Linked DNA regions of Homo sapiens: region 1 is linked to region 2. Evidence: fine-mapped QTL for protein levels in blood plasma. A gene starts in region 2. The other region holds a variant in brackets. All regions are shown on one strand. Distances are from middle to middle.

What was found. PIP is the chance, under the fine-mapping model, that this variant and not a neighbour inherited with it causes the effect. Protein levels are from antibody-based Olink assays in UK Biobank. Linkage for the fine-mapping came from a reference panel and not from the study's own genotypes, which makes the PIPs less certain.
Region 1: its variant is fine-mapped to the plasma level of the PZP protein (UK Biobank, PIP above 0.99). The variant lies in the coding sequence of PZP. If it changes the protein, the assay may bind it differently, which can mimic a change of level.

The regions. Positions count from the first base shown.
Region 1 is chr12:9,163,458-9,174,900 of GRCh38, forward strand. PZP (PZP alpha-2-macroglobulin like) reads right to left here. Exons shown (of 36, transcript NM_002864.3): 16 at 5,973-6,134; 17 at 5,412-5,517; 18 at 2,595-2,745; 19 at 1,682-1,910; 20 at 676-802; 21 at 211-332. It also overlaps a transcript of KLRG1 not described here. Among named protein-coding and RNA genes, the nearest start is that of PZP, 39 kb to the right of the region's middle. RefSeq lists an enhancer at 6,644-7,155. The variant G/A (reference allele first, on the strand shown) is at 5,481.
Region 2 is chr12:9,203,038-9,214,480 of GRCh38, forward strand. PZP (PZP alpha-2-macroglobulin like) reads right to left here and starts at 5,358. Exons shown (of 36, transcript NM_002864.3): 1 at 5,222-5,358; 2 at 731-914. The coding sequence starts at 5,304. It also overlaps a transcript of KLRG1 not described here.

The DNA of each region.
Region 1 (11,443 bases), 40 kb before region 2:
AAAAAAAGGAAATTGCACTCAAATAATTTGTGAAAAAAAATTTACAATAGCTGGCAATGTTGTCTGCTGCAATGCTTTTAGGGCAGGAAATTCCATTAGTCTTACAGGATGTATTGTGTGAGCATGATATTAATGGTTCTTTGTTGTCTCAAGAGTGACCGCCCGGTGTTGCATTCTTACAGTTGTTAGGGACTCCCAAAAATATGTTACCTCCACCAACAGGGTTTTGATGACTGTGTCTTTTCTTTTAATCTCAGGGACCTCAACAACCTCATTTCCACAGAGTTCTAAGGACTGCATTGCCTCTGCACTCACTGAGAAGTTCACATTCCCTAAAACAAGGAATATTGAAAACATGAGTATCCACTTTGATAGTCCAATCACCTTTAAGGGCTGCACCTTAAACTTATAGTTGTCCAGAATAGAAAATAAGGCTAAAAAAAAAGAAACCCACAAGGTTAATGTATACTAAGTAGCCAATGTCCAAGATAGTGATTCTGGGGACTAGCTTGGGTGAGAACAGTGGGAGGAGGTCATAGTGGATAGAAATAGGAAAAAAAACTAACTTTATAGAATTATATCTATGGCAAATAAAAGAGAGAATATGATGAAAAAAGTACTCAGACAGCCACCGTCCTTGTTGATTGATAGGCCCTTTTGGGTACTGTCACTCACCCAGAGTTTTAGGAGTCACTGTCCAAGACAAGGTTTGTCTCTCATTTCCACAGATACAATAGGATTCTTCTCCCTTTGTATTTTGGGAAGCTAGGAAGGCTGGAGAGGCTTTCAGCTGCACACTGACCTATCACCCCATGTGAGGCAGAGACAGAAATGATCAGAATATGGAACGACACGAACACATAGAATTGGGGCCAAGTGTGAGATGCTGCAGTAAATTGGGATTTGTAAGAAAAATGTATGTCACATAGATTCATCCATGCTTTAAGAAGCATGGCAATGGCAATGATACAAATCAAGATTGGTTGTGTATTAGGAGGATTTGGCATTTGCCTTAGGGTAGCTTGTGGACGTGCAGGCTTGGCAGTGGCAGAGGAAAGGGAAAAGCAGTGATTGTATATTGCCCTAGGGAATACTATCTGCTGCTATGTAGATTTTCATAGTTTCTTCCTTCCTTTCTTCTCCTATTTCTTACAACATATATTACATGTCTAATCCATACAAGACATAAAACACTGGGAATGGTAGATGAGAGGCTCCCGATCTTGAGGATATTGTGTCACAAGAAAGATGATCTATATACAACCACTATTACATAATTTACAAAGAGATAAGTGCTATAAGATAAATTAAAATTATATATTTTGGAGATTTCAAGATGACGGGTTGGAGAATGACTCTCGTGGAACTGAGAAAGCTGAGTTGTGTGTCAGCTTCAAGAATGTTCCTGGCATATAACCTAACTTGCAGCAAAGAATTCTGCAAGCGCTAAGAAATAGAAAAGCAAGGTGTGGCTTAGAGAGCCGTGATTTAAGCACCCATAGCACATATATCATTGTATTATCTTTCTGATCATGTCCTGCTTTGCATAGCACTAATTATTCACAGTGCTAACACACAATCCCTTGAATTATCCTTAGTCTCAGGAACAGAATCAGTAGCTGACTGATCAAAGGAATCTTTTGTTCTACCCACCTTTCCTGTTCACCCTCATTTTCCTTACCCGGATGCATTTGGGAAGGTAGTTTAGGACCGTGGCCTTGAGTGTGAAGACCTCTCCACGAATCACAGAGTAAGGCATTGTGAGCTCCACAAAGAAGGGCTGGAAGGCTCGGAGAGAGGCAGTGGAAGAGATACCAAGTCCAGCATCTTCGGACAGGCAGAAGGCCCCTGCCTTCCACTCGGTGATGGTGTCAGGGACTGTTACTCCTACCTCAGCCACACCTGATGAGCTGGGGAGGAGGGCAAGTGAAGAACAGAAATAATGAATGTAAGCCACCTTTTCTCAAGTGAGAATTAATATGCATAAAGCTAACGTCAAGAACTGAATCCACTTAAGGGTATATGCGAGTGTGCATTCGTGTGAACACTAGATTATGTCCTGGGATCTGAGTTGGGAAAATGAAAGCCACTGAATGGTACCTCTCCCCCTTATCAACAAATGATCATATCCCACATGTCTGTACTTTGAATAAAAATATTTGAATTGCGATTCATTTTAGTCCTTAACTTCCCTTGCTATTGTATAATCCCATAAATAAGCATTTTTAAGAATCATGACCAACAATTAGACCACTGGATTAATGTAGCCTGATTTGTTTATGTGCCTGCTCCAGCCCTGATATTTACAGAAGGCTCCCTGAACGACATTAAGCAGTATATATAGAACTGAATATTTATAGTTCTCATGTCTACTATTTGACAGTATCAGAAATAATTATTTTAGAATTGCTCAGCACTGAGACAATTGTATTAATGAGCCTATGCAATTGCGCATTTTACTTAGGTCTATCCTAAAGAGGAAGAGGTTAAGATAATTATTCAGAACTTTTCAGGAAGATTGTCTTAGAATTGAAAATGTTGGAGGAACCACATTCCCTCCCCTCCAGCAAATGGAGGAAAGTAAAGTTACTTACTTCACTGCCACCAACTCCCAGATCCAAGTCTCAGGAAAATAGCTTCGCACCGTTTCAGGGACTGGCCCTGAACTTTGTTCATTATTTAAGGGTATCACATTATATGTGCCTAATTGAGGAACATATGGTCTCTCTACTACTCCTAGACCTGCTAAAGTAAGAGAAAATTGTCTAGTTAGGGAAAAACATTCATTAATTTCATGGTGCACATGTGAGACGTTAGAGAACAAAATTTTCAGTTTTCCTGCTCAGACTGTCCTAAAAGTCTTGTAGAAGTTGTAGAACTTGGGAAATACTTTGTGATCCCTCATTCCCTGAAAAGAGAGGAGTCTTTGTCAAAGGTGGAAATTCTATGTATCCTAGACATAGCATAATTTGATGTGAATGGAAGCTGGAAAAACGAGATCACTTGGAGACAGTTTTATGGGTTTTGTGGCGAAGGACCAATTTTGAAATTGAGACAGTATTGCTTCATTCTTAGAGAAACTGAGCAGGAATTGTAAAATGCTCTTTAGACATTGAGAGTGGTTGCTATACTAAAAATGAAATTACCAGTGGAGTGAACAGAATTTAATGATTTACATTAAATTACTTTTACATAAATTAAATTTACTTTAAATCACTGTATGGAACTTTGCAAAACTGTTGTTCTCTGGGAAATAAGATTAGAGCATTAGATTTTATTCCACTTATTTTTTGACATCTGAAATAAACAATTCAGTTGTCAAAAACAGATATTTCCATTTGGAATGGCTGTGTGGTTCAGACAAAGAAATCATTTACCAACGTGAGAGGGTGGAGAGCTAGACATGAAAGCAATTTTGTCCACGTTGTGCCTGAAATCATGCTTACTAATTGAATTTGATTTAAGATCTCCCTCCATGTATCCCATCTGATATTTCAGAAATACCTTGTGAAAGAATACTTACAAGGAAAAATATATTTCTAGCAATTTCACCCTAACAGTTTTCTCCACTGAAGAAAGCATCAGTAGTAATTTCTTTAGTGAATATCATACACCTTGCCCCATGTCCTTCCAAGTGGTAACAATTTCTATCTCTGACTCTGATTTCTCACTGTTTTGTCTTCTCTGTCTTCACTCTTATCTTAAATATTGAAATATCTAAAAGGATGATGCACCTAAATGAACTATTTTCCATTTTCTACTGGATATGTCAAGGGCCCTCCAACTCCTCCAGTTATTGCAGTTAACAAACCATGGCATTATGTGTTATTTCAACTCCATTTAGTGGACCATGGCTATATCCTTCCTACTCTTACTGTCAACTTGACTTTCCACGTGTCCTTTCATAGTCTCTGCATCAAAGCTTTGTGTATCAGACCCAAGACCCTGGTGGCATGGGCTCACAAGGGTATCTCCTGATCCATGGGTTGCAGAGATCCTTGGGAGAAATGTGATTTCCCAGGCGAGGTCGCACAATCACTCACCGCTTCCCTTGGCTGGGGGTGGGGGTTCCTTCCGTTGCCCTCCCCCACCTCCACCCCTGCTGCTTTTCATTGTTCTCTGTAGTCATGGAAATGGCTTCATGTTGTTGAAGTTCTTATCAAGAAATTTCACAAGATATTTCAGTTTTCTTAGCTCTTTTATTTCCTCATATACCTGATTCATTTATAGCTACTAATTTCAATCCCTGTTATGTATTCATCACACATTTTAGAAGCTCTTTTTTTCCTGAGTGTTATTATATGCCGTCAATTTTCCATCTTGAATTTAATAAATTCAAGAACATTTCCTTCCCCCCAAACCTCAATGGTTTAAACTTGAAGTTTGTTCTATGTAAATCTCATGGCTATTTTCCTTTCCCTTATTCTTTATTCTCGTTATTTATATAACATCTCAGTTACAAGACAAAATCATATTTACCATTTTTGAGAAATTGTTTGAAATTTGTGCTATCATTGAAGGTATACTTAAACAGTCCATGGCCCTTTAAAAGGTGTCATTTTCTTAATAATAAAGCTCATTTAAAGATGGATATTAATCTTAAATGCCAAGGAACATAGAAAATGCTATTTAAACAATCAAAGTTCTTAATTTGTGTTGGTGCATTATATTTAGTTATCTTATTGGGCGTTTTGCAAGGTCTTGAAGAGCCATTAGTCAAATTCCTTCAATTTATTAATGAAGGATTTGAGGCTTAGAGAGGAGATATGACACACCCACTTCACATATAGGATATCTGATTTCCAATCCGAGCATATAAATATTTGTGAGCAGATGGATGTCAGGGATATTTTGGAGAAAAAGGGAGTTGGATTCATGAGAGAGGGATGACAAATGGCTGGGTAGTGTTCAAGTGTAAGTAGACCTGGTGATGGGACAGATGTTTTAATAAGTTCAAGGGTGTTGAAAAAGGCTGCTGTATTTGAATAGTGGTTTTGGCCATGGATTATGAGATATTTCTGTGATGTTCACGTTGTTTCTTGTCACCAGTGAAGCCCTTTGTCCTTCTTTATGTTTTTTAAAATACAGCATCCCTATGAATGTCTTTCCTGTTTCCATAATCAGAATTACTCTTTCTTTCCATTGTCAGCATTTTCCCTCTCTTACAGTACATCAGAATCTTGTATTTTATCTGATTTTGTGCCCTGAAGTATCGGATGTATCTAAAAAAAAATCTCTGATCAGTTCTAGCTATCACCAGCTAAGTCACCTCAGCAAGAAACAATTAATTTGAATCTTGGTTTCTTTGTGTGTATAAAGTGGAAATAGGGCTACATTACCTCATTTTAGCATTTTGGGCATAGTAATATTGTTGGACATGAAATAAAATTAAAAGCAAATTGCTGTTTTACCTCCATAGTATCCTTGACCTACTGCTCCTGCAGACACGGAAGGGATGACTGAACACGACTTTGGTTTTC[G/A]GATTTTTGAGTTAGTGAACACCTTCAATCCCATCCCCTGGAAAAAAATAATTGTTCAATCTACTTGTAAGCTTGATTAGAATATATAAAACATATTATCCTTAGAGACTTCTCTATGTAATTCCAGTATCCTTATATTAATTCTATGGCGAAACACTTGACAGTAAATATAGAGTAGTGAAATTACTAAACTTATGGATTATTAAGATTTTATTCTTTATTCATTATTTTTTGGTTTGCAAATAAAAAAACCTAAATATAACTAAAAAGTATCCAGATGAATAGGCAGAGGTTAGATCTAGCCCTGACTCACATACTGAGCTTTTGTGTGATCCTCACAAGAGACTTTAACCTTTTTATTGGCTTCATTTTTGTCTGCTGAAAAATGGAGAGGCAAGGCTACATAATTACTAAGATTATGAATAGATACAGAGTTTTATTAACATTCAAAAACTCACAAGCCAGCATGTTAATAAGTAGTGAGAATTTTACCTTGAGGAAGCTATAAATATCTGCTTCATTACTTGATAAGGGAACATAGATGGCTCCATTATGAATGAAGAAAGGACGGGGACAGTGTCCTTGTTCTTCCTCCTGCTGGTCCACATTGTCAGGAAAATTGGTGAGATCCTTCACAGTTAGCAGATTATATACCTGTAGCAGTGGGGGGATCAAAGGCAGAACTGTTACTTACTTTTCTTTTGAAATAGAATGAACTGAGAGAAATAAAATAATTATCACCAATCTTTTCTTGAGTACGTTCATGTAGTTGGTACCTTAGAGATAGTTGAAGATTTTCCTTATATTTAACAGTGTTGTTTTGTTATAAAGAAATGAAACCTACTTGGGAAAATGCTTCCAAAGATTAACAAAATCTTAAGTTATGAAGGATTAATTAAAACTTCATTGTAGAGTCTAGAGGTAAAAATAGACCAAATATAGAAAGAAGACGTAACTTGCATCTGTGTTTAATTAATACATAATGCCCTGAGGAATTTAGCTACATATTATTATTGCCACCTGTTAAACATCTATGTCTACTCAGGCTTATTCTCAGACAGAAAATCGTATAGATGGCCCATTAGAAGCAGCTGCGGTCTGCAGCACTTACGGAGTGGAATGAAAAAGCTTATTAAATGCAGCACCTTCAACTGAAATACCCAGGTTCTCACATTGAGACTGACTAGGCAAGCAACTTGAGCCACAGAGAACAATGAAAAGCAGCAGGGGCGGAGGTGGGGGAGGGCAACGGAAGGAACCCCCACCCCCAGCCAAGGGAAGCGGTGAGTGATTGTGCGACCTCGCCTGGGAAATCACATTTCTCCCAAGGATCTCTGCAACCCATGGATCAGGAGATACCCTTGTGAGCCCATGCCACCAGGGTCTTGGGTCTGATACACAAAGCTATGTGGAGTCTTGGCAGAGCAGCTGCTCAGGCACACAGAAACCCTGGAGTTTTACATAATCCGGCCCTGGGATCCCTGGAAAGGCAGGAAATCTGTTTGTATATATCCCTAGGAAGGGGGCTAAATTCAGAGAGCCAAAGAGCATCATCCTGTGGACCCCACTTCCACAGCACCTCACAGGTTAAGACTCACTGTCTTGGAATCTCAGCCAGCCGACGGCAGTGGGTTGGAGTCCACCTGAGATGGACCTGAGTTCCTGCAGGGAGAGGTGGGTGCCATCTCTGTGGTTCTGAGGACTCAGCCACTCCAGCCTGAAGGCTTGGGGAATACAGATGGTCTGGATGAGGAACGGTCCCCCACGATGCAGCACAGCTGCCTTGCCAGATTGTGATCAGACTGCTTCTTTAAGTGGGACCCTGATCCATTCCTCCTCATCGAGTGGGACCTTTCTGTGGGGGCTTCAGGTACTCCAGCCAGGGTTCTAAAGACAGAGCTTTGATCTCTCCCTGGGACCGAGCTCCTGGGGGGCAGGGGTGTCTGCCATCTCTGCAGTTTGGTTGACTCTGCCACTCCAACCTGCTGGCTTTGGAGAATACAGGTGATCCAGGTGAGGAAGGATCCCACCCAATGCAGCCCACCTGCTCTACCAAAAAGCAGCCAGGCTGCTTCTTTGAGAAGGTCCCTGATCCCATTCCTCCTGACTGGGCGAGACCTCCCAATGAGGGTCTCCAGCCACCTCCAACAGTTGCATGTGGGCTGGCAACAAGTTAGTACCCCCACAGGATGGAGTTTCTAGAGGAAGGCACAGGCTGCCATCTTTGCTGTTTCATGGCCTTTGCTGGTGATACTTCCACGTACGGGAGAAACCAAAGCAACTGGGGTCTGGAGTGGACCCCCAGCAAACCTCAGCAGCCCTATGATAGAGTGGCTTGACTGCTAAAAGAAAAACAAACAAACAAACAGAAAACAACAGCATCAACAAAAAAGACCTAACACAAATCTAATTCAAAGGGCAGCAGCCTCAAGGATTAAAGGTAGATAAGTTCACAAAGATGAGAAAGAATTAATTCAAAAACAACGAAAACTCAAAATGCCAGAGTGTCTCTTCTCTTCCAGATGACTGTGACACCTCACCAGCAAGGGCACAGAACCGGGCTGAGGCTAAGAATTGACAGAAGTAGACTTCAGAAAGTGGATAACAATAAACTTTGCTGAGCTGTAACCCAATGAAAAGAAGCTGAGAATCATGATAAAACAATACAGGAGCTGGTAGCCAGAATAGCCAGTTTAGAGAGGAACATAACTGACCTGATGGAGCTGAAAACCGCATCTCAAGAACTTCACAATGCAATCACAAGTATCAGTAGCAGGATAGACCAAGAGGAGGAAAGAATCTCAGAGCCTGAAGATTATCTATCTGAAATAAGACAGGCAGACTAGAATAGAGAAGAAAGAATGAAAAGAAATGAACAAAACCTCTGAGAAATATGGGATTATGTAAAAAGACCAAACCTATGACTGATTGGGATCCTTGAAAGAGACAGGGAGAATGGAACCAAGTTGGAAAACATACTTCAGGATATCATCCAGGAGAACTTCCCCAACCTAGCAAGACAGGCCAACATTCAAATTCAGGAAATGCAGAGAAGGCCAGTAAGATACTCCACAAGAACATCAACCCAAAGACACAAAATCATCAGATTCTCCAATGCCAAAATGAAAGAAACCATGTTAAGGACACCTAGAGAGAAAGGCCAAGTCACCTACAAAAGGAAACATATCATACTAACAGTGGACCTCTCTGCCAAAACCATGGAAGCCAGAAGAAATTGGGGGCCAATATTCAACATTCTAAAAGAAAATAATTTCCAACCCAGAATTTTATACCTGGCCAAACTAAGCTTCAAAAGCAAAGGAGAAATAAGATTCTTTTCAAACAAGTGAATGGTTAGGAAATTTATCAACACAAGGCCTGCCTTGCAAGAGCTCCTGAAGAAAGCACTACGTTTGGAAAAGAAAGACCATTACCAGCCACTACAAAAACACACTGAAGTACACAGGCCAGAACACTATGAAGCAATCACATAAACAAGTCTGCAAAAAAGCATCATGATGACAGGATCTAATTCACCCATAAAAATACTAACCTTAAATGTAAATGGGCTAAATGCTCTAGTTAAAAGACACAGAATGGCAAGCTGAATAAAGAGCCAAGACCCATCATCAGTATGCTATCTTCAAGAGACTCATCTCACACGCAAGGACAGACACAGGCTCAAAATAAAGGGATGGAGGAAAATTTACCAAGCAAATGGAAAACAGAAAAAAGCAATCCTAGTTTCTGACAAAACAGACTTTAAACCAACAAAGATCAAACAAACAAAGAAGGGTAGTATATAATAGTAAAGGATTCAATTCAACCAGAAGAGCTAACTATCCTAAATATATATGCATCCAATACAGAAGCACCCAGATTCATAAAGCAAGTTCTTATATACCTACAAAGAGACTTAGACTCCCACACAATAATAGCGAGAGACTTTAACACACCACTGACAATATTAGACAGATGATTAAGACAGAAAATTAACAAAGATATTTAGGACCTGAACTCAACTCTGGATCAAGTGGACCTGATTGATATCTACAGAACTCTCCACCAAAATTCAACAGAATATACATTCTTCTCATTGCCACATGGCATTTACTCTAAAATTGGACACATAATTGGAAGTAAAACACTCCTCAGCAAATGCACAAGAACTGAAATCATAACAGTCTTTCAGACGACAGTGCAATCAACTTAGAACTCAAGATTAAGAAATTCACTCAAAACCACACAACTATATGGAAATTGAATAAACTGCTCCTGAATGACTCTTGGGTAAACAATGAAATTAAGGCAGAAATCAAGAAGTTATTTGAAACTAATGAGAACAAAGAGACAATGTACTGCAATCTCTGGGATGCAGCTAAAACAGTGTTAAGTGGGAAATTTATAGCACTAAGTGCCTGCATCTAAAAGCTAGAAAGATATCAAATCAACAACCTAACATCTCAACTAAAAGGACTGTAGAACCAAGAGCATACAAACCCCAAAGCTAGCAGAAGACAAGAAATAGCAAAGATCAAAGCTGAGCTGAAGGAGATAGAGACATGAAAAACCCTCTTAAAAAAACAATGAATCCAGGAGCTGGTTTTTTTGAAAAAAAGTTAATAAAATAGATAGACTGCTAGCTAGACTAATAAAGAAGAAAAAAAGAAAAGAATCAAGTAGACACAATCAGAAATGATAGGGGAATATCACCACTGACCTCACAGAAACGCAAACAACCATCCGCAAATACTATAAACACCTCTGTCTATATAAGCTAGAAAATCTAGAAGAAATGGATAAACTACTGGACACATACACCCTCCCAAGACTGAACCAGGAAGAAACTGAATATTTGAATAGACCAATAACGAGTTCTGAAATTGAGGCAGTAATAAATAATCTACCAACCAAAAAAAGCCCAGGACCAGATGGATGCACAGCTGAATTCTACCATAGGTACAAAGAAGAGCTGGTACCATTTCTACTAAAACTATTCCAAAAATTGAAAAGGAGGGACTCCTCGCTAACTCATTCTATGAGGCCACCATCATCTTGATACCAAAACCTGGCAGAGTCACAACAAAAAAAGAAAGCTTCAGGCGAATATCCCTGATGAACATCGATGCAAAAATCCTCAACAAAATACTTGCAAACCAAATCCAGCAGCACGTCAAAAAGCTTATCCACCACAACCAAGTAGGCTTCATCCCTGGGATGCAAGCTTGGCTCAACATACACAAATCAATAAGTGCGATTCATTACATAAACAGAACTAAAGACAAAAACCACATGGTTATCTCAATAGGTGCAGAAAAGGCCTTTGATAAAATTCAACATCCCTTTATGTTAAAAACTCTCAATAAACTAGGTATTGAAGGAACATACCTCATAAGAGCCATATATGACAAACACACAGCCAATATCATACTGAATGGGAAAAAGCTGGGAGCATTCCCCTTGAAAACTGGCACAAGACAGGGAAGCCCTCTCTCACCACTCCCATTCAACATAGTATTGGAATTTCTGGCCAGGGCAATCAGGCAAGAGAAATAAATAAAGTGTATTCGAATAGGAAGAGAGAAAGTCAAATTATCTTTATTTGATTTTATATCTAGAAAACCCCATTATCTCAGTCCAAAAGATTCTTAAGCTGATAAGCAACTTCAGCAAAATCTCAGGATACAAAATCAATGTGCAAAAATCACAGGCATTTCTATACACCAACAACAGGCAAGCAGAGATCCAAATCATGAATGAACTCCCATTCACAATTGCTACAGAAAGAATAAAATACCTAGGAATACAGCTAACAAGGGAAGTGAAGGACCTCTTCAAGGAGAACTACAAACCACTGCTCAAGGATATCATAGAGGACACAAACAAATGGAGAAACATTCCATCCTCACGCATAAGAAGAATCAGTGTAATGACAATGGCCATACTGCCCAAAGTATTTTATA
Region 2 (11,443 bases):
ACTAGGTGTTTGCTTAGGGTATCCTGCATGTGCAAAAAATTATGTTGCATGCAAAGTTTTTATCATGAAATTTTCATATGATCTATTTCTAGGAAATGTCCAGCCCGATCCTTAAAGAGACAGTTACAATCAAAACTAGAAAACTCCTCTAAGTCATGAAATTTTTGTGGGCAATAGGATTATTATTTAGGAATGAAATTTAGAAGAGTATTTCTTCCTTACTCTGGTAAAAAATGCTTTGTTCCTTAATAGTTGAAAACTCACTATTTTTAGTCCTTTCTGAAGTCCTAACTACATTCCTTTTTTTTTTTTTTTTTTTTTTGAGACGGAGTCTCGCTCTGTCGCCCAGGCTGGAGTGCAGTGGGGCGATCTCGGCTCACTGCAAACTTCGCCTCCCGGGTTCACGCCATTCTCCTGCCTCAGCCTCCCAGGTAGCTGGGACTACGGGCGCCTGCCACTACGCCCGGCTAATTTTTTGTATTTTTGGTAGAGACGGGGTTTCATCTTGTTAGCCAGGATGGTCTCGATCTCCTGACCTCGTGATCTGCCCGCCTTGGCTTCCCAAAGTGCTGGGATTACAGGCGTGAGCCACCGCACCTGGCCCCTGAAGTCCTAACTACATTCTTAAAGTCATACCTTGGGATCGCACACCAGAGCTCCATCACCATGACCTATAGAGCTCAATAAAATGTATCAAGCAGGGATAGCCAGCTGGCACCGTAGCACTCACAGTGAAGGAGACACAGTGGAATAAGTCCTTCTCCGCCACCAGGTCAGTGAAGAGGCTCCTGTTTTCCCTGCCAGACTCCAAGGAAGCACTTACAGTCACTGTCTCATTCAGGTGGCTCAGAAGGACACAGCCCTTCTTAGGGGCCTCAGTGTGGAGCAGGGAGGGGACCAGCACCATATACTGCCTGGGAAAGGAAGAAGTCTAAATTAGAGAAAAACTGATGATAGTAAGCGTTTTCATCCATAAATGTGTTTTCATAACAATATGTATTAATTGGTGCAATCAGTTTTATTCTAAAAGTCAATGGACTAAGTCAATGGAGGTTCTGTCACAGATCAGCACAAAAATTTTATCTTTTACTCATCAGCCATGCCTCAGCCACACAATCTGGAGCCATACAACACTGGAGATTGCTTTCCAAGATGTTACAATTTCACAGGCATTCCTTGCTGTAAAGAGCAGTCTGAGCTCTTTAAACTTTAACTTTGACCTTTAAAAAGAATCTGAATTCTTGAATATATATCCATAAAAGTGCACGCACACAAACACACACACATATATAAAAAATTGGGAGTGATTATTCATTGTAAAAAGGACTTACATTAAAATCTGTCTAGATAAACATCACTTTGGAATGAACACCGTGACTAGATTTACAGAAATTCAACTGAAAGAACTTCAGTAAGCATATATCATTACACAAAATAACACATGTCTATATTGCAAAATCATTTTCTTAATATCAGCAACACTGAAAAAAAGTATTTGCTGTTTCTCTTAGGCTCCTCAGATACAGCTCAGTCAAAGTCAATATTTTATCAACGAGTTTGAAAATTTTGTCAATTATTTACATGCACAACTCCCTGCTACACACACACTACACAAACACACACTGTATTTTATTATCATTTCCCTTTATGCTCAATTTCTTGAGGCAATTAACATTAATAATTTAATATTAGTATGTCCATGTTTATAAACATGTTTGTTTCGAATCACATGGGTGGATAGGTTATCTTTTCAATAAAAAAAAACAAACAGGTTCAGGCTGGGAGAAGTGGCTTATACCTAGTTCCCGGCACTTTGGGAGGCTGAGGCAGGAGAGTCACTTGAGGCCAGGAGTTTGAGAACAGCCTGCACAACATTGTGAGGTCCCCCATCTCTACAAAAATTAAAATAAAAAATTTAGCCAGGTGGCACATGGCTGTAGTAGCAGTTACTCAGGAGGCTGAGGCAAGAAGGATCACTTAAGCCCACGAGGTTGAGGCTACAGTGAGCTATGATTGCACCAGTGCTTTCAGAGTGACAGAGTGAGACCCTGTTTCAAAAAAAAACAAAACAAAGTTTATATGAGTACTAAAAGTCATATTATTTTGAAAAGTCTTTTCTTTTTTATTTAAATTGTTGAAAGTTTTCAGTTTTTCAGAGGCACAGGCAATTTTTTGTGTAAGCCTCACATTCTGGCCTTAGCTTTATTGATGAGTGTCCTTTGTCTCTAATGCCCCCCACTCCATATTTTCCTGTCACTTTCCAGAAGCCTCCAATTCAATATAATCTCTCCACACTCTGAAATCCCATGGGCTGAAAGAGAATGTGTTTTTGTTGTTGCTGTTTTTGAGCATCTGCCACATGACAAGAATTGTTAAGCTGTCTCTGTATTAAGCCATTTAATCTTCCCAGCAATGCTGTAAGGTACATGCATGATACTCTCCATGTTCATGGAAGCTAAAACATGAGATCCTCATCAGTCCCCAAAACTTGAATCCATAACAGATAGATAAAATCCCTGCCCCCATGCCAAATCAGTAAAATCAGTAAATTGTGACTAAAATGTAACTCTTCAAAGCTTTAATGATTCAGTGATTCATGATTCAATATCTGCAGGGTTAGGCCATTTATAGAGTAAATTTGCAAGTAAAAACTATTATTTTCTTATATTATTTTACTACCCTTACTTTCCATTGCCAACATAAACTCTTACTTTTTAAATTGTTTTCTGGACAGGCAATTTGACACAAGAAACCCAATATTGTTGCTTTACAAAATTAATAGGTGTGAGACTAGGAGGAGAGAATCCAAGGATAATTGAGTTGTGGAATGTGGAACTCAAATTTGGTCCCCTCATCCTCCATGTAGTCTGCTCCAGCACACCAGTCTTGCTACATGTGTTTTAAAGTGTTCCTGGGCAAAACTATATGCCATGAATCTCCAGGGCCACTCTGAAATCATCCAAGTTTCAGATGATTTTACTGTATGAGTAGTAAGGTTTTGTTCTCTAGCAGAGAAGCTGAGGGCAGTTCAGTAACTCACTGATAGTCATTCAGCTAGTCTCTTATGTCTTAATCTTTTTCTGGTATCTGGATGCTTCTGATCTCCTGATCACTGCTCTTTTAACAGCATAATAAATAATAAAAATGTATCATTTTTTACATCCCCATCAAAAAATTTTTCCTTTAGTTCTTTGATCTTAATAAGAAGGTATATATATATTTATAATTTATTTACTATTTTTATTCTTATAAATTATAAGCCTAAAAGATATCACGATTAAAAATTAATTCCACATATATTTGATATTCTAAAGAACTATTTTATATGAGTTCAGTTAATATTTTTTTAACAGATATTGAAATCAGAACAAATCCAGGTTGACAAACTTGCCCAAGATGTCATTGGTAGTGAGCTGCTAAAATGTTTTAATATATGTTTACTCAATCATGAATGTTTGCATTTTAAATATTTGCCTCTTTAGCAGGGACTAAATGTAGCAAATATTAAAGTGATAACTTTTAATTTTCTCTTTTTCATTTTATTCCCCTGAAACCTTCATCTTTCTGAAGCTTACTGCCCCAAGGCAGGGGAGAATGGCTATTGGTTCTCTTTTGTAGTCTCTCACATTTATCACATCAAGGGTTAATTCTGGAGGGATGAAGTTAAGTTTTCTCCTTATAAAGGGAGAAAACACCCCTTCTGCTTGTGACAACTAGGGCATGAGGCTTGTTGTTCTTTGTTCAGTGGCAGACACAACGTAAAAGGATGGTTTCAATGGCAGCATGGTCCAATGTAGTGTAGGAATGCATCCAGAACCACAAATTGCTTAATGTTTCTGACCCAATACACGCTACTCGCTTTATCCATTCAGTCTGCTCTCAGAAAGCAAAATAGCCTCCACATATTCCCATATGCTTTCTGGATGGAGAGCAGCTGGAAGTAGTAGAGCCCACTGCTGTAGATGAGGTAGAGGGATAGTGGGGGAGAAATGTACCCCTACCGGTTGCCAGGAAATTGTGCAAGGAAAAAGCCTGAGGAAAGCAGGAGACTTACTGGATTGAACTCCTTATTTCTGCTTTCTGCGCTTTGGCCTGAAGAAGGCTATTTGTGTTAGATGGATAAGGGTAACACACAGAGCAGAGGGACCCCTTATCCCTTTCCCGATTTGGGACTCTGAAGACTTCCCTGTATCAGTCTGGAATACAGGAGACACGATAGGCATCTAGAAGTGCAGTGTGGGTATGCAAGAGAGAGGTAGAAGTTTAACCTCTCCAGGACACCTCAGTGCCTATGTGCTATTATTGGACCCAAGAGTTCTCACCATTCTCTGGAAGAAATGTAAAGGCAGCTGGGTTAAGGCCAGGGACCTTAAATGGCCTGGACTGCAAAGGGGCAAGGTGACCCTGCATCACAGGCTGTGTTGAAACAATAGCCATAGTATTTGAGGCAGGATGCAAAGGTAGGAGTTCTATGGGATATGAAACAGCTGAAGTGAGACAGTCAGTTAGAGAGGACTGTTGGGTCCTGAACACACAAGAGAAACCAGATGGCTAAACTTCAACAGTGCATGCCAGCAAGTAAGGAGAAGTCAGACTGACAGTAGCCAAGAAGGACGGAGAACTTTGAGACCAAGGACTCTGACAGTTTTCTCTATTAGGAGTTAATGGAGACCACAGTTCTCTAGACACTATAGAGGAGAGGAACTGGGGAGAGGTGGAAAAGAAGTCTTACAATTATTGAGTTGTACCAACTTACAACTGGATAGGGTTAAAATTATTTTCCCTGCTTTGGTCCCCCACTGGGGGCTGTTGGTGAAGACTTGATACATGATTGAAAAATAAAGGAGCTATACTTTCTGTATATATATATATGGCCTACAATACATGTTAAGTTGCACTTCACTATATATTTCGAATATCTCTATATTCAGTGCCTTCCATCCAAAAGAACTGTTCTGTGAAGTTGGGATCTAGTGTTTTATTTAATCATGCTTCCTAGTGACTAATCGTATTTATGACTCTGATTGGCCCAGTGTAGAAAAAATGATTTCAAGAATAGAGGATAAATGAAAGACAAACAAGGGATTAACTGGAATAATTTCTTATATTTGGAAGGTATTGTAATGAGTGGAAAGGTGGCATTTACAAAGGAAGGCAAAGCGAAGACACAAGGGAGAGACTGAAACGCACTCTGGAGGAAGGGGTCTTGAGTGAGACTTACGGTTCTGTAGAGTTTGAGTCACTGGCAGAAAGCAGGATAAGAAGTAGCACAAGACATAAATGAAGAAGTCTGTCTTTCCGCATTGTGAGGGATAAATCTCAGGGTTGTGTCCAACTCTCTGCCCTCAGCCTCGCCCTGGAGACCAGCTGAGTTTACCAGGCTTTATGTGGCCACTATGTACAAACAAGCCCCACCCCAAGGCCTCTGAATAGAGTTCAGAATTGAGCACAGATTCCCTAAAAGGGTCATTACTCTCAGTGGTTGCCTCATTTTTCTCAAGGCTAAATTCTGATAGGTACTGAGGCATGTCTGGAAGATAAAATTTGTATTCCATTTAGAATGAGCTTTGACAGCAAACCTCCTGATAAGGAACCTTCAACCTACCTTTCTCCATCTCTTTCAAAATCCTTACAAGCAGGTGACAAAGGATGCTGACAAAGAATGTCAGGGACATGTTACCATGATAGTAGCTCATGCATTGCAGATTCATTTCTGGGACTGAGTGAGTTATAACTATAGACTTTAGGGTTTTTGGGTTTTCTTTTTTAGCAGTTGATTGAGTACATGGTCCTGGAAGAAAGTGATATAAAATAAGGATTTCAAGAGTAGAGGATCAATGAAAGATAAAAGAGATAAAAGATCAAAGAGATTTTAGAAAGGAGTTATCAAAGATCACACTTGTCTATTTCACAGCATTGACCTGATCAGATTCTTAGTTGATCCTATCTGTCCTTGTTACTGTCTGAGCACTCTAACGTTTGAGTCCCTTAAACCATGTCATTGACTTTATCTGAGATTTTTTTTTTGAGCCATACTGTGTGCTAAGTGCTATTCTGGTGATGAAAATACAATATTGAACAGGATATTCAGTATCCATGCTCTCATAGAACTTGTAGTACAATGATGATCACATATAAACCACCAGCAGATTTAATGCCATCCTTAGACTGCAGACATTGGTGTCTGTTTACATACTGTATTGCTTGAAACTTTTTAAATCAACTTTCTTTCTCTTTCTCCATATTTCAGCCTAATCATCCCTTCTTTGGAGAGCAAATTCCTGGCCACACTGCTGAAAGTGGATTCCTTCCTATTAGTTTTTATTTCACATCTTTGTTTCTTTTGTCACATTATCATAGAATGAAATAATTTCTTTTAAATTATGAAATGTTATATATATATATACTCACAAATATAGAGAGCAAGATAAAAGACACTCGTACCTTACATGCACCCAACTTTAATAAAATTAAACACTTGCCAAGTTTGTTTAAGGTCATTTCTTCTTAAGAAATGAAAGATGGCAATGGTAGTGCTCTTTTAAAATTTGTCTAGAAGCTTTTCCAGTTTTTACCAGATCCACCAACCCAAAAAAAGAAATAAATCAAGACAAATATGGTTGGAGTTTCCTTTGTAATTCTCTCCAATCTCATTTCCCTTCCAATGTTGTGGGATTAGGAAGTTGATATGTATTCTTCAAGATGTGTTTATGTTTTTAATCCATATTTATGTAAATAATATATAGCATAATTTTGTGTTTTGTATTTTATATGTATAAGTGGTATGCACATATTGTAAAATATGTCATCACTATTATGGTTTTAAGACTTATTAGCATTGATAATGAGGATAAAATTTATTAATTTTAATGACCATCTATACGACATTCTATTGTATGAATGTGGCCGAACCTGTTACTCTATTCCCCTAGTGCTGAATTTTGGATTCTTCATAGTTTTCAACATTACAAATAATACTGCTACAAATACGGTATGTCTACTTAAGCATATTTGCAAGACTTTCTCTAGGGTATATAGCAGAGATTGGGTTATAGGCTATATATGTATGTACATCTTGAAATCTATCAGATTGGTAAATTGCTCTTCAGAGTATTACATGGATTTGAATACCCATCTGCAACAGTGGATATTTTCAGTTTATTATATATTTACCATCGTTTTACTCTGCTAGGCATTTTACTTTTTATCAATCTGATGAGTGAAGCAGTATCTTGCCTTAATTTTCATTATTAATGACTTTACACATCTTTTCATATGTTTATGGACCATTTGAATTCTACCATCAGTTTGATATCTCAACACAATATGTAAAGGGTCTATCAGGAACATCTCCTTGCCCCAGTTTCATGAGCCTTGGACTCTAGACGCTGCAATTTTATTTACTAAAGGCTTTAAAATGTGCTTCTAAATCTCTCAGCCAAATATTCTGGAGCTGTTAAATACCCTAAGGGGAAAGTGCCCTTAAACACAGAATTGCCCCTTTGGGTTGCTATGTTGCTTCTGAACTTTGGATTCATAATTCTTCACAGTCTTTGCTTTTCAATACCTCCAGTGAATATATATATAACCAACCATTCCTAATTTAAGTGGGAAGTTTGGTCTCAATTACCTTGTATACCATTACTGGAAAGGAAAGTCTTAAGTGTGTATTTTTATTTTATATAAAGAGTATTGGAAAAAGACCTTGCCTGTTTCTTATTCTTTTTAGTTATTGCTAGTTTTAAAACATCCTCCCATGTTTATATGTTTATATGTATGTATTTTATTAATTGCATTTTATTACAGTATAGCCCTCTTTGGTGATCATCCAAGAGGTTTAATGTTTCCACTCTCCTAATGATAAAAACAGGATTGTCTCTATTGTCCTGCCATGAGGAAATAATGCTTTGATAAATATCTTTTTACATATACCCTTTGAGACAGGTAAATCCTCTTGCAAGACGCATACACAGGAGTGAGATTGTTGTATGAGAGGCATGTACTTAAGTGACTAAATAGTGACAAATAACTCTCCAGAATGGTTGCATCACACCACAATTCTACCAGTAGTGCATGAGGATTTTCGTATCCCCATATTGCCACCAATACTCTAGCTTTTACATTTTTCTTCCAGTATTCCTTTAAATAAGCTTTCTGCTCATTTCCCTCTTTTCTCCTTCTAGGACTCCCATAATATGTGTATTTGCATGCTTGATGGTATTCCATAGGTCCCTTATACTTTCTTCACTCTTCTTTAATTTTTTTTCTTTTTTCACCTTTAATTAACTATTTACATGACCTGTCTTCAAGTTACTAATTCTTTCTTTTGTGTGACTGTGTTTGCTGTTGAAGCTCTCCATTAAAATATTCAGTTCTGTTCTTATATAATTTTTGTGTGTTTTTTCTTAATGGTTTCTATTTCTTTATTAAACTTCTCATTTTGTTCATACATTGTTTTTCTAATTTTATTTAGTTGTCTATCTGTGTTTTCTTGCATCTTACTGAGCATCTTTAAGATGATTATTTTGAATTTTGGGGGGAAATTTGTAGATCTCCATTTGGGGTGGAGATTAGTTACTGGAACTTCATTGGTTTCCTTTGGTGGTATTATGTTTGCCTGGTTCATCATTATCTGTGTAACTTTGCATTGGTTTCTATGCATCTGAAGGAGCAAACACCTTTTCCCATCTTTATAGACTGGTTTTACAGGTAAAGATCCTCAGGATCCTCCTGTTGGGTTCCCAGGATTGACAAGATTGCTTCCAGAATTGTGGTCAACTGGAGGTAGAGCCAGGTCACATGGTTTTGCTGGGTCAACAGTGAGGTCTGTGGTTGGCAGGCCTGTTAACTGGGGCTCTAGTAGGCTTAGATTCTGTCTGTTCCCTGGGTAAATTGGACTGCCTCCTAGACCTTGGTCAGTAGGTCTGGCACTGGGATGAGGGTCTACTTTAGAGTCCACAGATTGTAGGCTAGTTACGAGATATGTGGATGAATGTGGCTTCCTCTGGGTCCTTAGGAGGGCTCCTACTGGGTCACTGGGTAGGTTCCTAGGCAGACAGTGCTGGTCCAGATTGCAGCTGAGAGAAAAGAGAACCAAGTAACAGGGCTGCCTCAGGGCCTACAGCTGAGACCCAGGTCTTCAGGCCTGCCTCTGGGTTCATGAATGGGCATGTGTCCCACTGGGTCCCTGAGTGGGCAGGCCTGCTCTCAAATCACAGATGAGAGGGCCTGGAGCCAGTATACAGTGCTGTTTTAAGATCCACAGTGGGACCAAGTTCAGCCTACCAGGGCACTTGTGAGCATTTCTCCCATTAGGTCCCTGTGAGGGCAAGACTGCTCTTAGACTGCATCATAGAGGAGCTGGTACCAGATTTCAAGGCCATTTTAGGATTCACTGTATAAGAAAGAAAGTAGCCAATCATCTTTTCTAGTTTTTTTATGTTAGTTATTTTCTTTCATTAAATGTTATAACTAATATGTATAGTTGAGGCCATGGTAGAAACAGTAGTGACAAAAAACATAACTGTCTATGCAAGATAATAGGACAAATGTTTTCCAAATGAGGAAAAGAGTAGTTTTGTCTTAAAATATCTGATTTTTCCAGAATGTGAAATGGGACAGTGAAAGAGAAAATCTGAATGAATGTGCAATAAAGTTTGCAGGAAAGGAAATTATTTCCTTCATTTATAACATTGAATCTGAAAAAAAAAACCAGTAAATTTTTTCCATAGTTGGCTATTTTTTACAATTTTTAAATGGACACAAATTCCCATTACATAACATTTATTACATTACAGTGTACAATTCAGTGGCTGTTAGTATGCTCATGGTGTTATGTAATTATTACCACTATGAAATTATGGAACATTTCCATCACCCCCAAAAGAAACTACATACATGTTAGTAGTCACTTCCTATTTTCAACAAGTAGAAATACTAATTCGTGCATTCTCTGCAAACACTAATCTACTTTATATTTTTATGAATTTACCTATTTGGACATTTCATATTAATAGAATCATAATATATGTGGCCTATGTTGTGTGGCTTCTTTCACATAGCGTGATGTTTTCAAAGTTCTTCCATGTTGTAGCATATATATAGTACTTCATTCCTTTACATGAGTGAACGATATTGAACAATATTCCAATGTATGGACATACCACATTTTGTTTATCCATTCCTCAGTTGATAGACATTTGAGTTATTCTCATTTATTAGCTATTGTGAATAATTCTGCTATAAATATTTGTATACAAGTGTTTGCATGAGCATATGATTTCATTTTTTGGGGGAATATATACAGGAGTGAATCTGTGGGTCATATGGTAGCTCAGTGTTTAACTTTTTGCAGAACTGCCAGACTATTTTTCACAGTGGCTGAAACATTTTAAATTCCCACCAGCAGTGTATGAACATCCCATTTTCTCCACATTTTTGGCAACATTTGTTATTCTGTCTATATTTAATTTTTAGAATGATAGCCATAGTGGATATAAAGAGGTATCTCTTTATGGTTTTAATTTGTATTTTCCTAGTGAATAATGATTTTGAGCATATTCTCATGTGCTTACTGACCATTTATGTATCATCTTTAGAGGAATGTCTGTTGAATTCCTTTGCCCATCTTTTAATTCAATTGTTTATCTTTTTATTGTTGAATTGTAAGAGTTCTTTACATATTTTGGATCTTTGATCTTTATCAGATATATAATTTGCAAATATTTACTCCTGTTCTGTGGGTTGTCTCTTCATGCATGATAGCGTCCTGAGACACATAGAAGTTTTTAGTTTTAATAAAATACAATTTAAAACATTTTTTGGTTCATTGTGCTTCTGATGTCATATTTAATAAATTATTGCCTAATCCAAGGTCCCAAGGATTTATACCTATGTCTCCTCCTAGGAGTTTTATTATTTTAGCTCTTACATTTGGGTTTGTAATCGATTTGAGTTAATTTTTTGTATATAATGTGTGTTAGGGGTCCAACTCCAATCTTTCTTTTGCATATGGGTATTTGTTTTTTTCATCATTTATGTTGAAAATATTATCCTTTCCCCATTAAATGTTCTTGGCACCCTTTTCAAAAATAAACTGACCAAAAATGTGTGGATTTATTTATGGACTCTCAATGTTCTTCCATTGATCTATATATCTATCCTTATGCTAGTACCATGCTGTCTTGAGATTGCTACAGCTTGTGTGGTAAGTTTCAAAATTAGAAAGTAGAAAAGCTCTTAGTTCTTTTTTTCCCTTCAACATTGTTGTGACTAATATGAATCTTTATAATATCCAAATGAATCTAAGAATCAGTCTGTCCTTTCTGTATAAAAGACGGTCGTAATTTTGATGGAATTGTGTTGAATCTGTACATCAATTTGGGGACTATCTTTGTTATCTTTATCCGATTAAGTCTTCCAACTCGTGAGCATGGAGGTATTT